Homo sapiens: one gene and its partners. The protein of the gene in region 3 interacts with the protein of the main gene of each other region in a biochemical or structural test. Each region holds a gene or a part of one and is shown on either strand. Other genes may lie near its edges.

What was found. The genes of interacting proteins can lie anywhere in the genome.
Region 1: the proteins of VCAM1 (region 3) and EZR form a complex in vitro, tested with the Homo sapiens proteins (one study listed by BioGRID).
Region 2: the proteins of VCAM1 (region 3) and MSN form a complex in vitro, tested with the Homo sapiens proteins (one study listed by BioGRID).

What each region holds. Positions count from the first base shown.
Region 1 is NC_000006.12:158,816,286-158,823,491, forward strand, and holds the start of EZR (ezrin), read right to left. Parts: upstream 3,084-7,206; 5' UTR 3,032-3,083; intron 1,951-3,031; exon of another isoform or gene 1,882-1,950; 5' UTR 1,809-1,881; coding exon 1,797-1,808; exon of another isoform or gene 1,694-1,796; intron 1-1,693. UniProt on the Homo sapiens protein: Probably involved in connections of major cytoskeletal structures to the plasma membrane. In epithelial cells, required for the formation of microvilli and membrane ruffles on the apical pole. Along with PLEKHG6, required for normal macropinocytosis.
Region 2 is NC_000023.11:65,670,654-65,677,736, reverse strand, and holds part of MSN (moesin), read right to left. Parts: intron 1-7,083. UniProt on the Homo sapiens protein: Ezrin-radixin-moesin (ERM) family protein that connects the actin cytoskeleton to the plasma membrane and thereby regulates the structure and function of specific domains of the cell cortex.
Region 3 is NC_000001.11:100,736,742-100,739,628, reverse strand, and holds the end of VCAM1 (vascular cell adhesion protein 1 isoform a precursor), read right to left. Parts: intron 1,507-2,887; coding exon 1,346-1,506; 3' UTR 584-1,345; downstream 1-583. UniProt on the Homo sapiens protein: Cell adhesion glycoprotein predominantly expressed on the surface of endothelial cells that plays an important role in immune surveillance and inflammation.

The DNA of each region.
Region 1 (7,206 bases), on a different chromosome or scaffold from region 3:
GAAATGTAAACCTAAAAGTAAGAGGATAAACTGTATATTTTACCAAAATACAAAAAAGAAACCATAAAAATAAATTACCATTCATTATGAGAAATGAGAAAGAAAAGTAGTGACGGAGAACAGGTTAACTTTTTCCTGAGTGCTATCTTAGCTGAGCTCTGCACCTCTTCTTTTAGTGAAATAAAGAAAACCACACCCAGAAGGGTAATCTTCTTGACCACTCCTCCGCATACCGTTGCACTCAGCTCTGCCTGAGTAAGGGGTTGTACTTAGGTCAGTTTCATACCACATGCACTGTCAAGCCTCGATGTCACGTGTCACTTTTAAGTTTGAATTAAAAAGAAAAATTTTGTATAGAAAATACTCTGCATCACAAATGAATCATCTTGATGTAACTTAGGCAAAAATTATATTGGCTTCTGAATCTACTGGCATATTAATTCTTTATCCTAACAGCAAAATTAATACCTCTAACAAAGATCTTAGAGAACATAAAATGTAACAGAAGAAGCACACAAGGCCGGGTGTGGTGGCTCACGCCTGTAATCCTAGCATTTTGGGAGGTCGAGGTAGGCAGATCACCTGAGGTCAGGAGTTTTAGACCAGCCTGGCCAACATGGTGAAACCCCCTCTCTATAAAAATACAAAAACCAGCTGGGCATGGTGGCACATGCCTGTAATCCCAACTACTCGGGAGGCTGAGGCAGGAGATTCGCTTGAACCTGAGAGGCAGAGGTTGCAGTGAGCCGAGATCATGCCACTGCACTCCAGCCTGGGCCACAGAGAGAGACTCCGCTCCCCCATCCCCCACAAAAGGCACACAAGCATTGATTACAGAACCAACTTGTTTGAAAAACCAAAAAAAAATTCCAGATGTATCTGTAATCCCAATTTGTAATGAATCCTGATATTTTGTCCATTGTGATTCAAAACTCAAAAAATGTTAAACCTTCCCCCTAATGTCTAGTCACCAGTTCCCCAGTGTTAAAAGCAGGTAGAATACATACAACTTTCTAAGAAGCGTCAGTCCCAGAGAACCTGCCTTGTGCCTACAACCCCCAGGTCTCGCCAGCAATCTCAACACAATCAGATTCAAGGAGACAGAGGCGCAGGCACAGCCCTTTCATCAGCTGACCAGGAGTGCTCGGCCCGGCCTGCCAGGAACCTCTTATCAAACTCCACCGGCTGCCTGCATCTACAATTCAAGTCCATGGCTAACCTTCTGTTAGAGACAGAAATTCTGCTGCAGCCAGCAAGTTTGCTGGTGTACAGGGCACCGCTTCATGGGCCTAGTAGGAAGCGAAGCTGAAAGGCAACTTCCGAAAGCCAGTCTCCTCTCCCAAACGCCCTTTAATATCTCCCCAGTTGGATCTGGGGCGCCTGTGGTTTCGGACCCTTAGGAGCTCTGAGAACTGGTGTGTGTGGTCGGAAGCCATCTGAGTCTCCCTGTGATTTGGACTTTTTAAGAAACTTCTAAGTTGTATTACTATACCCTTTAAAAACAGACGGAAGCAGTGTAAAAAGGCCTCTAGTTTTTAGAAAAGACCGTAACTACTGGGGAGGGGGCTCACAAAGAAAAAGACTGCAGAGAAAAGCATCAAAATGGTGTTTTCCTAACGCTCCACAAAAGGGTCAACAAGTAACAAAGAGCGGCGAAAACCTCCTCCTATTCCTATCGTCTTCTGCGTGTGAGAAGAACCCTGTTCCCCAGGAACTGCCCCAACACCTCGAGCAGGTGCCTCCCCTCTCCAATGAAGCCTCTCCCGTCCGCCCGGCCCAGAAACTGGGCAACTTACTGGTTTCGGCATTTTCGGTTTCTGGTGAGTATCCTCGATCCCCGAAAACACGACTATCCAGCAGCAGCGAAGACGCTGTCCCAACCTGGAGTCAGAGCAGAACCCTTAGAGCGCCCGCCCGCCCTGCCTCGTCCTCCTGCCGCGCCCGACACTCGGCGCCCGCAGCGCGCTGCCGCTTAAGAACCGGCCAGCCCGGGCCCGGGTGAGTCAGCGCCCCGCCCAGCACTGCGGGCATGGGGAGGGGGCACGGGCGGGGCGGGGCCGGGCCGGGCCCCCGGCGAGGAGGCGCCCGAGAGCGGGGGCGCGCGCCCAAGGGGCAGCCGGCGGGCACTGGAGGTGCCCCCCAGTTGGGGGTGGGTCCGAGGAGAGGGGGTGCGCACCCAGGGGACCCCCAGCATGAAGGGGCTGGTGGGGGGCGCAGGCCCGGGAGAGAGAGGGCAGGGGGAACACTCAGTGGGGAGGATCGGGGGGAGGGGGCGCGGGCCCCGGGGAACACTCGGCCAGGAGGGTCAGGGGAGAGAGCGCCGGCCGGGCGGGGAGGGGTCTGGGGGACACTCGAGGTGCACCCAGCGGAGAGAGGCGGAGAAGAGGGGGCGCGGGCCCAGGGATACCCGGCGGGGAAAGGCCCGGGGAGAGGGAGCGCGCGCCTGGGAGAGAGAGGGCGAGGGGCAGGAGGAACACCTAGGAGGAAGGAGTCCCGGGACAGCCAGCGCGAGCCCGCGGGGCACCCGACAGGGAGGGGTCAGGGGAGAGGGGGCACAGGGCGGGCGGGGGGGCACTCGCTGGGGAGGGATCCGTGGAGAGGGGGCGCGGGCTCGGGGTCCGCCGAGGAACTTCCCGGGGCTGCCAGGAAGCCCGTGAGAAGCCGAGCACTCGGCAAGTTTCACTTTGTGTAGCAACCGTTGCCCCGCGGCTGCAGTCACAACCGTCAAGCCTTTGAGAAACTCTTTCAAAAACTGCAACCGCTCGGGAGCCGCCGAGGGACGGCGCCCAGGCACCCAGGCTCCGCGTTTCCTTCGGGAGAGACCTGAGGGGACCCGGCGCCGAGGGGAAGGTCGCGGGGCCGCGGGCCGGCTCAGCTCCACCTGCCCCGGGGGTGCCGGGCGAGAACCCCGCGCCGCGCCCCCTAGGCTGCCCGCCGCACCTGCCGCCGAACCCCGCCGCCCGCCCGGGCCCTCCACCAGGAACCCCCCGCCCAGAACCCCCGTCCCGACCCCGGCCGCCGCACGCCTCACCCGGCGCCTGCAGTGCTCCGTGTGCTCCCCGCCGCCCTTGCGTCCGCCGAGTGCGCTCGCTGCCCGCGCTCCCAAAAGCCCCGGCGGGGCGGGTCCCGGGACCACGCCCCTTCCCGCCCAGCTCCCGACCTGTGAGGTGCGCCCCCCGCAAGATGGCGGCAGCCGGGCCTCGGGCTGGGTGGGGGCGGAACTTGGCGGAAGTGCGCGCTACTCCCCTCGCAGATGCAAGTGGGGAGGCTGTTTGTCCCACAGCGGGCAGGGGGAAGTCAGGAAAACGTAAATAAATCTGGAGGGGCGGACGGCTTGGGGGAATCGCTGGACCGCTTGGGGCCGGGACCGGGGGCCAGTTCCGAGGCCTCGGCCCTGGGGCGGCTGCACCTGGCCCCGAGTCTCGGTGCACGTGGCCGGCCCAGCCGCCGCCTTTCCGAAGCTCTGGTTAAGTGGCACGTTTGTGGCCTCTTTTGACGTGACTGGCAAAAAGCTCCATGGGATTTCTCTGAAATTCTAGGAATTAAGTTTTTTTGTTTGTTTTTTTGCTAATGGTTCTCAACAAATTTTTAAGACACACAAAACACATACTTTGGGGGCCAGTAGAATTTGCTGCGGGAGAGCTCACTCTAGAAGGGGTTCTCAACGTCTGGCTTCCAGACGAGCAGCAACAGCATTCACTGGGAACTTGCATAAGTGGAAATTAGGTGTTGCTCAGCCTTAGGATTCAGAAACTCTAGGGCTGAGCCCAGCAATCAGTGTGTTACAAGCCCTTCGGGTGATTGTGATGTTGGCTAAAGGTTGAGACCAGAGCTTCTCCTGAATTCCTCTCCTGGGTTTACTCCTCCCTTTCTGCTTTTAGTTTTCTTGTTTGTAAAGCGGCATAATTATGGCACCTGTATCAGAGGGTTCTAATGAGGATAATGAGTTAGTACATGTACGATGCCTGGAACAGTACCTGACACTTAGTAAGCACTTAAATCTATCCTGGTAGAAAGAGAAACCAATGACTTTGGGCGAAGTTCCAAACTCTGTTTCCCAATTTGTTGAGTGAACATACTAGTAGCCCCACCTACATAGACTTGTAAGGATTAAATGAGATCGTGCATGTGGAATGCTTAACTCGTGCTAGCCTCATAGTAATTGATGCTTAACCTGTCTTCCTAGGGACACACTGCTGTTTGGGCAACCCTTTGTCAGGGCCTGTTATCTCCCACTTGCAGATCCAGGGCATTTCAGAGGTCAGAGAGAGGAGGGAGGCCTCTTCTGAGATTTTGACCTCTATTCAGGTAAGTGTATTCCCTCTGAAAGACTGAACTTTTCTTTCCCTTTTTTTTTTAGACGGAGTTTTGCTCTTCTTGCCCAGGCTGGAGTGCATTGGCGCAATCTCAGCTCATTGCAACCTCCATCTCCCAGGTTCAAGCAATTCTCCTGCCTCAGCCTCTTGAGTAGCTGGGATTACAGACACCCGCCACCAAGCCCAGCTAAATTTTTGTATTTTTAGTAGAGACGGGGTTTCACCATGTTGGCCAGGCTGGTTTTGAACTCCTGACCTCAGGTGATCTGCTCACCTCGGCCTCCCAAAGTGCTAGGATTACAGGCGTGAGCCATCACTCCTGGCCTGAATTTCTTTTTTATTAAAATGAAGTTATAGGCCGGGCGCTGTGGCTCATGCCTGTAATCCCAGCACTTTGGGAGGCCGAGGCAGGTGGAACACCTGAGGTCAGGAGTTCAAGACCAGCCTGACCAACATGGAGAAACCCCGTCTCTACTAAAAATACAGAATTAGCTGGGTGTGGTGGCGCACGCCTGTAGTCCCAGCTACTCGGGAAGCTGAGGCAGGAGAATGGTGTGAACCCGGGAGGCAGAGCTTGCAGTGAGCTAAGATCGCACCATTGCACTCCAGCCTGGGCAACAAGAGTGAAACTCCGTCTCAAAAATAAATAAATAAATAAATAAAATGAAGATATAATGGTAACTGCAGTAGAAAGAAAACTATGAAAGATATTTAAATTACCTGCACTGATAATGTTTCCAACTGGACATCAATACCTCCACTGCCTTATCACTGCCTGGAGCCTGGTTAGCCAGTTTGGGTTCCCAACTCTCATAATAGGATATGCCTCTAATCTAATTTTTATCTCGCTCCATTTGAAGTATACTGTCTTCTAAATTGAATGTTTGAAATAGCGGTGCCCCAAGACCTTGAAGAGCATTTCTGAACTTTACCCTTTAGGGGAATGCCAAAAAATGAAGTGGCCTGTGGCAGTGTGGTAAAAATGAAACGGCCAGGTGCGATGATTCAAGCCTGTAATCCCAGCACTTTGGGAGGCTGAGGCGAGCAGATCACCTGAGGTCAGGAGTTCGAGACCAGCCTGGCCAACGTGGGGAAACCCCATCTCTACTAAAAATACAAAAAATTAGATGGGCATGGTGGTGCACGCCTGTAACCCCAGCTACTCGGGAGCCTGAAGCAGGAGAATCACTTGAAACCAACCGTGAGGCAGAGGTTGCAGTGAGCTGAGATCGCACCATTGCATTCTAGCCTGGGCAACAACAGCGAAACTCTGTCTCAAAAAATAAATAAAATAAAATAAAAATGAAACGATGGCAGGTTTTTGAGGCAAACAGAGCTAAGTCTGAATTCTGCTTCCTGCAAACTGACCAACCTGGTCCGTTCGGGCAAGTCTGTCAACCTGACTGAGCATCCATCTCTTCATCTGTAAAATGGAAAGGATAATATGTATTTCATGGTATTCTTGTGTCACTGAATCATATCATATGAGCATTTGACTCACTCAACTTTTATGTACAATTAGCCCTCTGTATTTGTAGGTTCTACATTCATGGAATCAGCCAACCTTGGATGGAAAAGATTTGGAAAATAATAAAAATAATACTACAATTAAAATACCAATAAAAATCCAATACAGAATATAGTATAACAAGTATTTACATTATATTACATATTATAAGTAATCTGGAGATGATTTAAGATATACAGGAGGATTTTGTACATTATATGCAAATACTGTACCCTTTTATGTCAGGAACTTGATCATTGGAGAATTTTGGTATCCTCAGAGGTCTTGGAACCAATCCCCTGTGGATACAGAGGGATGCTATATAATCTTTCTTACATAAGTTAAAATAGTATAAAGTCATATTTGTACATGCATTCCTTATCATGTATCTTACATTACTGTAAGTATGACAACATAGCATTTACATGTTACTGTACTGTTCTGCCCACCAAGGAAACACTTACAGTGTATCTTATGAATGTTTTAAGATTTTCTAAGGGTAATTTATTTTCATCAGGGTTTGGAACCTAAACCCCTGCCCCCAGCACACACACAGAAGACTCAACTCCAGCTGTGTTGAAACTTGAATATGCATTAGAATCACTCATAGTGCCCTTCTCCAGGACTTATGGCTCACTAAGACTAAGTCTCAGGCAGCCCCTGGGAATCTGTTTCTTTAACAAGTCCCCACGTGGTTTTGATGATGTACACCACAATTTGAGAACAACTGACTTAGGATGTGGCAGGACCTTGACGCATATTTCACTTGCCTCTCCTTTTAGCCCTCATTTGTGAAGCTGTTCCTTGTGTTTGAAAGTCATCCTTTTGTTAATATATGATACTCAGTGCCTTGGAAGGAAGTGAGGAAACACTGGAGCCAGGACTACTGGAAACTTCCCTGCTGTTAGTTTAGGTATAAGACCTTGAATGACCCTTCATTGCCGGGTTTCCATTTTCCAGTTTTTCAGCTAGAGAAGGGTAATCCTAAGTCTGCCTCTTGAGCCTGGTGAAGGGCTGTTGGTAATTTCCTGGGAGTTCTTCAGACAAGGTTAAAACTAAAGTGAGGAAGGGCAGCCCTCCCGGAAGCTCAGAACAGTGTCACGGACTAGAACCATTGTACCCAGAACAGTCACATCCACTGATACAGGAGATTTCTATCAAATCACCTTGGAGCCTGTCTCCACACTGGTGCCGGGTTAATCTCAACCAGTAACAAAAAAGTGACCAAAGCTCTATCTAGCTGTAGTCACTTCAAAAGAACAGTCAGTAGGCAGTGGGGAAATACATAAAGAGTACTCTTGGCAAAACAAGGATTGGGGTTATTTTCCACCCTTAATAACCTTGGGGGAAAATGCAAGACGGTGACTAAATCTGGAGGATAGG
Region 2 (7,083 bases), on a different chromosome or scaffold from region 3:
ACCCAGGCTGGAGTGCAATGGCGTGATCTCAGCTCACTGTAACCTCCACCTCCCAGGTTCAAGTGATTCTCCTGCCTCAGCCTCCCAAGTAGCTGGGATTACAGGCTCCCGCCAACACGCCCGGCTATTTTTTCTATTTTTAGTAGAGACAAGGTTTCACCATATTGGCCAGGCTGGTCTCAAATTCCTGACCTCAAATGATCCACCTGCCTCAGCCTCTCAAAGTGCTGGGATTACAGGCATGAGCCACCACACGCAAACTCCATGTGCCTCTTTCTAATATTGCTGATATTTTCATGTTGGAGAAAAAGAAAATTAAAAGGCAAAGAAGTTATGTGACTTTTCTTCTTTGTAAAGGAATTAGTCAGTCTCCCACAAGTATCTACAAGGATGTTTGGAGAGGAGTTTAGCTCACTTAAAACCCTTGAAAATAGCAAAGATTTGTACGACTTAACTAATGATGCCCAGATTGACTGTTACCTTGACCCTCACCCTCCAACTCTATACCATAGATTAGTCAACCTCAGTTAAAAATTACAACAGATAAAAGAGGCTCTTGGTGAGCTTCATCAAACATCCAGGCTGAGAATCTGAAAAAATAAATGGATCAGCCAGGCGCAGTGCCTCACGCTTGTAATCCCAGCACTTTGGGAGGCTGAAGCAGGCAGATCACCCGAGGTCAGGAGTTCAAGACCAGCCTGGCCAACATGGTGAAACCTCATCTCTACTAAAAAAAATATAAAAATTAGCCGGGCGTGGCGGCGCACACCTGTAGTCCCAGCTACTTGGGTGGCTGAGGCAGGAGAATCTCTTGAACCCAGGAGATGGAGGTTGCAGTGAGCCAAAGTCATGCCACTGCACTCCAGCCTGGGCAACAGAGCAAGACTCCGTCTCAAAAAAAAAAGAAAAGAAAAAAAAGGAAATGGATCATGGGTTGGAGGGAAGGCAGATTAGATCACGAAAGTAAGATCAGGAACCTTATCTAAACACACAACTTGAGAAAAATAAGACTTGATCCTTCTCAGGTATTTAATGGAGGCCAAGGCTAAAGAGAGGGAAAGAAATACTGATCAAGCCTGACAGGTATGCCTTGTTCCCCCTCCTAGGCCTTGGCCCCAGTCACTTCCCAAATATATACCCAGGAAAAAAATTTTCAGGATTATATCTTGTTTTGTACAACCAAATTGTCATATCTCAACTCTTCTCTCATTAGGCCCTGATCACTACCCTGGATGCACAAAGTATCTATCAAATTCCCACAAGGTAGAAGGGTTGCCAGGAATGGGAAGAAACTTCAATATTCGAAGTCACCAATCACAGAAGATAACTGGCAAAACAGTTCTACTAAGCAAGCACAGAGCCATTTGCCATATTAGTGGCCTAAGAGCTATGTCAACACTTACCTTATGCCACAACAAGCCGATTGAAAGGAGCATCAGATCTGGTATCTGTGTCATTAGGCACAGACAAAGGGCTGTGCTTTGAAAGTCGCCCAAAAGGCCTTTTCTCCAAATTCAAGACCCAGATGCTGCAGCTGTGCCCTGGCCAGAAAACGTCATACTCCTCCACCTCTAACAACCACACACTGAGAAATCCTCCCTGCCATCTCCACCCTTTCCCAAATACCTGATTTTATAGCAAAGTCAATGAGAGAATTAAAAGCTGTTTCTAGGCTGCTGACATAAAGTTATTGCCAAGCTCTATTCTTTGGTTTAGTTCATGTGTAAGCATGAAGAAAAGACCCTCTCACATACCTACTTAGGCAACAAAAGCAACATTTTTAAAAATTAATTTGCCCAGGCTGGGCGTGGTGGCTCACACCTGTAATCCCACCACTTTGGGAGGCTGAGGCGGGTGGATCACCTGAGGTCAGAAGTTCAAGACCAGCCTGGCCAACATGGTGAAACCCCATCTCTACTAAAAATACAAAAATTGGCTGGGCGTGGTGGCGCATGCCTGTAATCCCAGCTATTTGGGAGGCTGAGGAACGAGAATCGCTTGAACCCAGGAGGCGGAGGTTGCAGTGAGCCAAGATTGCACCATTGCACTCCAGCCTGGGCAACAGAGCTAGACTCCATCTCAAAAAAAAAAAAATTAATTTGCCCAATTCTGGAAAACCAAAGGTATGGTCTCCCCCACAGGCCCTTGTTTGCCAATTAAGAAAGGATTGTTGGATCCAAATTACCCTAGAAAGAGTAGCTTCATCTATGCTTATATCTGTGGCTCCCCTTGAATCAGTCAGCAGCTCAAGCCTCCCTTCACTTCAGATAAAGTAACTTTCAAGAGAGCATTGGTCTAGGGCCATTGGTTTACACCCACATACCAAAAACACATCACTTTCCCACCCAGAACGGCCACTGCTCCCAAGTGTACACACCCTTTAAGGCCCTGTTCATGTCCCAGTAAACCCTTTCTCCTCAAAAAGTTGTAGAAAATGCAATGCAAAGTATATATTTTTCTCAAGCCGTTTTTAAGTGAATTAGCCCTAAATCCCCAATTAAATAGGAGATAGGAGATCTTTGAAGGCAGCAGTTGTATCATCCCTTCATTTATTTCTATCCCTTATGGTAAATAGTACATAGTAACCACTCATTAAATGGTAAGAATTCAACTACCTGTCTTCTTTCTTATCCATCCCATCTAGCACAAAGTTAGGCATATAGTAAAATTCAGTAAATAATCATAACATTTGTATATCACTTGTTAGATTCTAGGCACAGTTCTAAGCCCTTTACATAAATTACCTCATGTAATCCTCACAGCAACTCTGTAAGTACTATTATTATTTATGGTTAAGGAAAATGAGGTGCAGAAGTTAAATAACTTGTCCAAGGCTATATAACTAGTTGGTCGCAGAGCTAGATTTGAGTCCAGGCAGTCTAGTTCCAGAGTCTGTTTTTCAACACTACTCTATGCTTCCTTTCCACGGAGGCTTGAAAGGTCTTTTTTTAGCTTCCTGCCCCAGGCTTGGCCTATAAGCACCTAGAGGTGAGTGGTGAACTTTGAGGCCAGGAGATTCTAGTCTGCATTCAAACAATTTGCTACAGCAGCAAATACTGTCACTAAATTGAAAAAGTGCCATACTGTTCTCCTAACTCAAGGGACAGATCAAGCTGGAGCGCTGAGTCAGAATTCAGAATTCAAAAAGGTCAGAGCTCAAAATTAAACAGGGCAAAGAGAAAGCAGGGAACTGGGGTGAGGGGTAGACAGGAAGAGAAGACAGTCATCGGAGATCCCAGAAAAACTTGCTATAGCAAAACCATTTTAGGGGAACTCCATTGTACCCATCTTGTTAATGTAATCACCACAGAGCCAGTTCTCTGGAAGTCTGTGCTCTCTGGGTGGAGTCATCCTTCTAAGACAGCCAAGTCCAGTGGGAGACCACTAACTTGGGAATTAGGAAATCCAAGTTCTCCTTTCAATACTGTTACCAACTATATGTGACCTCGAACAAGCTGCCTAACCCCTCTGGCTATGAATACGATGAAGAAATTACTCTCTAAAGTTTCTTAGGACAGCAAGGCCTAGTCTCAAGCAGGAAAATGTGACTAGTGTCCTCTCTCTACCTCCCTTCAGCCTACACATATGCCTTCCACCACCCGTCACAAGCCAAAGCAAAACACTTACCTTCCTGGGAAGTGCTACAAAGAGTTCCTGAGACAAGGTCAGAGCCTGAGCCATTTCCAAATAAAGAAACCCATGAGATCAGCTCTACACACTCAGAGGAACTTGCTCTTCCCATGGCCATAACTCCACGGTCATGTCACCACCAGCACAGAGGGAGAAGACACTGAGCACCTCACAGTGAGTGCCATTTAGAAGGTAGGCATTCACCATCCCTCCCCTACACTGGAGCCAAGCAAGTTAGGTTTTAGTCCTGGCACTATCACCAGTTCACTCAAATCCTTTCCCTTTTCTGGACTTTAGTGCCCCCATCAAGAAGATAAAGGCTGAGGCAGAAGATTTAAGGCCAGCTCAGTTGTTCCATGGTTCAAAACACTCCTGTGAGAAACCCTGCCCATCCAGAACAACCAGCTAAAGGAAAGCTTAAGGCTAGGGAAGCTCTGGGTTGCCCTAGATGCAAATGCCTTTAAAATGCTGTACCCCATACAAAATTAGCTGGGCATGGTGGCGCATGCCTGTAATCCCAGCTACTCGGGAGCCTGAGGCAGGAGAATCGCTTGAACCCGGGAGGTGGAGGTTGCAGTGAGCTGAGATCGTGCCATTGCACTCCAGCCTGAACAACAGCAAAACTCCGTATCAAAAAAAAAAAAAAAGCTGTACCCCACAATAGCCAGTCCTCAGCTCACTGGTGGTAGATACTTTATGAGGTTTGTTTAGGAGCCCTTAGGAAGGCCTCAATATCTACCAATATATCTAACTACCACACTCACCATGTTAGAAGAAAATCTGAAACATAATCTAGTAGCTTCCGGGCCTTCCTTTCAGCAGAAATAAAAAGGACTATTCTACTATCAGGCAGGCGGTCACTGAAAAATGTGGGAAGAATGGCAGGAAAATCTATGAGGCTTTTAGTGTTTGTCCAAAGCTTTTCAGTCAACCCACAGTCTTCATAATATACTCTCACTTGGTTTATTTCTTTCCACAGTAAGGAAAGACACAGCCCTTTCTCTCCCATGACTCGGGAAGAAATGGCCAAGAGTACTCAAGCCAGTATTCTTCTTGGATCTACTAATGAAACAAACCAACTCCCATGTGAGAAACAGTCCATTCTGAACTCAGCACTTAAGAAGAAACAGCACTCAAGGAGTATAATGGGACAAGAGGATACATTTTAATAAGCGCTGTTCAATTTTGTATTTCCAATACTGCCTGGCACATAGAAGGTACCCAAATGTTGAAGAAAGAATGTCTGAAGGAATGAACATACATATAAGAGACTCAATGCTCTTATACCATCAAGATTCTCAAAAACATCAGTACTGGAGGGATTCCTAGAGTTTACCCATCACTGGTACAGCTCCCTCATGACAAGCTGGAGAGACAGAGGGCCTGAAGAAAGGACTTGCCTAAAGTCCCACTTCATTTGGCTCACTTTACTGAGGACAGGAGAGAAGTTCTTCTTATATGGAAAGAGAAGAAAAATTCTCAGTTCAGTGATGCTTTCCATTTCCCAGCACCCACCTTCCAAATTCATGGAATCCTGAGCTAATCCTCCAAAGTGACAACTTCTATACCACAGATTAGAACCTGGAATTGAAAAGTTTTTCAGCTCTCTCAAGCATGAAATGGAAGGAGGGATGGACAGCAAAGCCAGTCAGTCATGAAAAGACCACCCCCTTCACTTGAACCAACAGACTATCCCAAAGGAGACCACATCTGTACCCTGTTTTTTCCTTTTTGCAAGCAAAGTAATAGAGCAGGTGGCAGGGAAAGAAGATTCTGAGTTAGGAAAGAGGCACATGATAAATTCAATTCTATCTTTGAAAGATTAGAGACAGACTATTAGCAATCTGTAACAATGCCAAATTTCCAGCAGCTATGGTTATGAAAGGCCTAACTCTGGTAGTGTTGGTAGCCAGATATTCTCCCCTCTGGGGACCCTGAGTCTAGAAATTCCAGTGGGGGAAACTCCCAGAAAGATACAAAGGGACCTAAGACAGGCTGTTGCCATGCAACACTAGAACAGAGTTCAGAATAATTGTAGCTGTCATATTATCTCATCCAGAGAGAATTAGATTTGGAGGCAGGGGAAATAGACTAGATGACTTCCAAATGTCCTTTCCAGCTCCATCATTCGGTAAAGTAGTTTCATGGGAGGAGGAGGTAAGAGAAAAGTAAGAACAACACCCTAAAACAAGCTACTGTTGCAGGCAGCTAGAGAATGGAAAGTTAGAAGATTAGTGATCAATACTACTTCTATCACTGACTCACAGAGCAACCTTTCCCTCTCCAAGCCTAACACGAGAGAGCATAGATTAGTTGGTGTGGGTCCCACAAAGGCCTTCCTGCCCCACCAGCCCCCTCCCTACCCAGAGGGCTGTTAAAAGAAAAGCGTAAAGGAAATTCCCAAGATGGTTCCTGCTCTGTCTCTATCATCTACACTTTCACAAAGGGCCAAGTGAACTGAAGAACCCAAGTGGAGAGATGCAGGATCCTCTCTCATATGACCTCTCTTCCTGATCCTTTTCCCCCCACTTAAGTCTGTAGGCAGGGCTGGTTCAAGGGTTAAAAGACTAAGAATCTGGCTCCTATTTACCAAGTACCACTTTAGTGCCACTCGAGTGGCTCAAGTAATGCTAGGAATGGCAGGAGAATAAACAGTCCACATAGTCCCTGTTAAAGTTTAGCTGAATGCCGACCCAAACACCTTCAAATACTTCAAGGATCTAGGCTCTATGTCTGCTCACATTGATGGTCCCATCAAATGACCACTCGATTGCCTTTCCCCTGATCTGTTGATCTATGGCTAAAACCCCAGCAGATCAAAGAGGTGTTTCACCAAGACTGACCCTCTAACTAAGACCTAGATTCAAGTCCTAGTTTTGCAACTGGCATACTGCATCACTCTAGGTTAGTCTCCCCCTAACATGAGTTTCAGTTTCATCATCTATACAATGAGAGGAATTGGACTTTATAGTTGTGGAGAGCCTTTTCAATACTAACATCTAATAAATCCCAAGGAAGGAAACCAGAAACTCAAGAACATCTCGAAAATTCAAAACACTCTTTTTTTAGGAAATCCAAGAAAGCCTCAAAGCCTTTGTGATCCTAAAAGAAAAAAATTAAAGAAGGTAGGGAGGGGGAAAGGCCTTTTTAAATATATATATATATATATATATATATATATATATATATATATATATATATATATATATAACTGTCATCATCACCAAAAAATGTAGATGGCAATTAATAAGCTTTTCCATTCTGGCTACTAAAGCAGACTCAGGAAACTGGCAACCAGAAGCAGAGTCCAAGGAATGGCAAGAAGGCAAGGGTGGCGGTGGGTAGTGAGGCATGTTTTTTTGTTTTTTTGCTTTTTTTGTTTTTGAGATGGAGTCTCACTCTGTCACCCAGGCTGGAGTGCAGTGGCGTGATCTCGGCTCACTGCAACCTCCG
Region 3 (2,887 bases):
CGTGAACCCAGGAGGCGGAGCTTGCAGCCAGCCGAGATGCGAGGTGGCGCCACTGCACTCCAGCCTGGGCGACAGAGCGAGACTCCGTCTCAAAAAAAAAAAAAAAAAAAAAAACTCCAAAGGAAGCATGGAAATGATCAATGTATGATTCACAATATTTATGGGTTACTGCTCAGTGAGGGAAGAGTGCTGCCATCACTATGTGGTATATAAAAGGCTCTGAAGAATAGTTTTACTATCTCTTGCTCTTAATGTTCTGTACACAGGTGTTCATTTGTTGCCCATTAACATGTGCATGTTCATCTGCATTAAATCTTTTTATGTATATTTTTCTAAATTAAAAAATTGCAGATTCCAAGGACCAAAAACTAGACACTTCTATTCAATATCTTAGTCTGGCACCAAGAAATCTACATTTTTATCAAGTTCCTACAGTAATTTTAATAATAGTAGTCTAAGGGTCACATTTTGAGTATCCGTATTATTTCCATAGTTTGAATATTTTACTCTTATAACTTAGCACTTCAGAAAGAGCTACAATGTGACTAAAGGAGGCAGTTTATAATAAATAAACATACAACCATTCTAATTCCAGAAATTATCACTTTACTATACAAAAAAACCTAAACATTTACAAAAGAAAATAAAAAGAAGTTGCATTTTTAGGCCACATTGGGAAAGTTGCACAGGAGTCTGATGAACAAACTTCGTGAAACATCTCCGTACCATGCCAGTACTATACAGAGAAACCCAGTCAACCATTATACCATAGGTTGAGGTATTTAGTACCTGAAAGTCAACCCAGTGCTCCCTTTGCTTATTATTTGTCTATAAAAATATAAAACCCGGCATCTTTACAAAACCTGAAATTATTGTCAATAAACTATATAGGAATAAAATTTTGTGAAAGGGAATAAAATAGAAGAAAGATGACAAAGGTCAGCTGTCAGCAAATATTAATGTGAAATTTTCCTAACATGCATTAAATTATAATAGTCCAAGCAACACTAGTTATTTTAACAATCTAAATATAGAGTGTTGCTATTTTAAGCAATCTTGCTATGGCATAATTTTATTTTACATATGTACAAATTATGTTATTGTATATACAGATCAAGGAACTCCTCCAGTTCTCTCATCTTGATGGCAGTTACTGTTCTTCAGGCAGCAAGTTTTACTTTGACTTCTTGCTCACAGCAAGGGACATAGATGGGCATTTCTTTCCAAGTTCAATACATTCAGGGAAGTCTGCCTCTCAGCTCATTGTTTTTCTCAAGGAATGATGAGCAGTATCAAGGATTTGCACAGATAAATAGTGTCTCCAGTTGAACATATCAAGCATTAGCTACACTTTTGACTTCTGTGCTTCTACAAGACTATATGACCCCTTCATGTTGGCTTTTCTTGCAAAGTAAATTATCATTCCAATGGCAGGTATTATTAAGGAGGATGCAAAATAGAGCACGAGAAGCTCAGGAGAAAAATAGTCTTTGTTGTTTTCTCTTCCTGGAAAATAACAAAATGGATGCAATTAATGTCTAGTACAAAAAGATAGCATTTAATAACAACAGTTACATGTTTATTATAACAGTACAACTAGTTCTCCAAAGAGAAGGGAATCAAAGCAGTGATAAGGACCATCAGGACCCAAGATGCATGTTTGTCTGAATTATCCAAATAATCAGTTGGTGGTTGCTATGGTCATGATGGATCTAAAGATGATAGTTGTTGGCTTCCACAAACTTGGATTCAAATAGATTCAGGTTCAGTTGTAAAATGGAAGGGAGGGTACAAGTTTTTAACAAGAACAGGAATTGGAGAGAGGCAAGAACAGGAATTGGAGAGAGGCACTTGCTTGGGGAAATAAAAATATCTACTAAAGAACTGGGACTCTGATGACCATGAATTGAAATGACTAACCAGTTCTCTAAGAAAATCCTTATAATATTCAGAGTGTGACCATTATAGCTAAATGCCACAAATAAGATCGTAAGAGAAAAAAAAAATCTTGCCAATGGCTTTCTCAGAGATATACAGAAGTTTCTATGTTTTTTATGTCAGAAATAGGGCATATTAATACATTTTTCCTCTTCAGCATTTATATCATCTTTTGATAAACTAGAGTTCTTTGGACAGTGTTATGTTACAGCTTAAATGTTTCTTAGAGGCATTCTCTAATCTATATCTCCCTCATTCTAAATTAAGAACCTCAATATATTTTCAAAACCCACTCGTTTTCCCTTCAAAACCCTTATTACAGCTTTTAATTAAACATTTATCCATGTAATTACTTATTAAGTTTAGTTTCCTCCCCTAAGCTAAAAATTACATCAAGACATGTATATCTATTTTCTTTTTAGTCCATCACTGAACAGCCAGCACCTGACTCACTGCTTGGCCTAGTTGGCACCAAAAACAATATTTTTTAAACACTAATAACATTTTTTTCTCTCTACATTTTGCTTTTGCCACTTAGTTGTAAATGGAGTACAGTAGGTAACAGCATACAAAAACTTTAAAATTAGTATTCTTTCTAATCTGCTAAAAAATCATCTGACAGCTGCTATACTGCTTAACATCTTAACTTTATAAGAGCAGCTGAAGAAGATAGTGTGTCATTTACTGAAGACTCACTCCTGTTTATACTTTGCACAGCATCATGTGACCACACAAGTATTAAGTTTCACTAAGTGGCATATACATTGTCTCAGTCCTGGCAGAAACTAGAGATCTGACTTTGGTGATTACTACATTCTTTCCAGAGCTTTCTAATCACTGGAGGTCAACCAAGTAAAAAGAATCACGAGCATCAGATAATGTGAAGTCACTTTTTCAAATTATTGAAGAAAAACAGTTCACCCTAAGCATAATGATAATTGTCTCACTT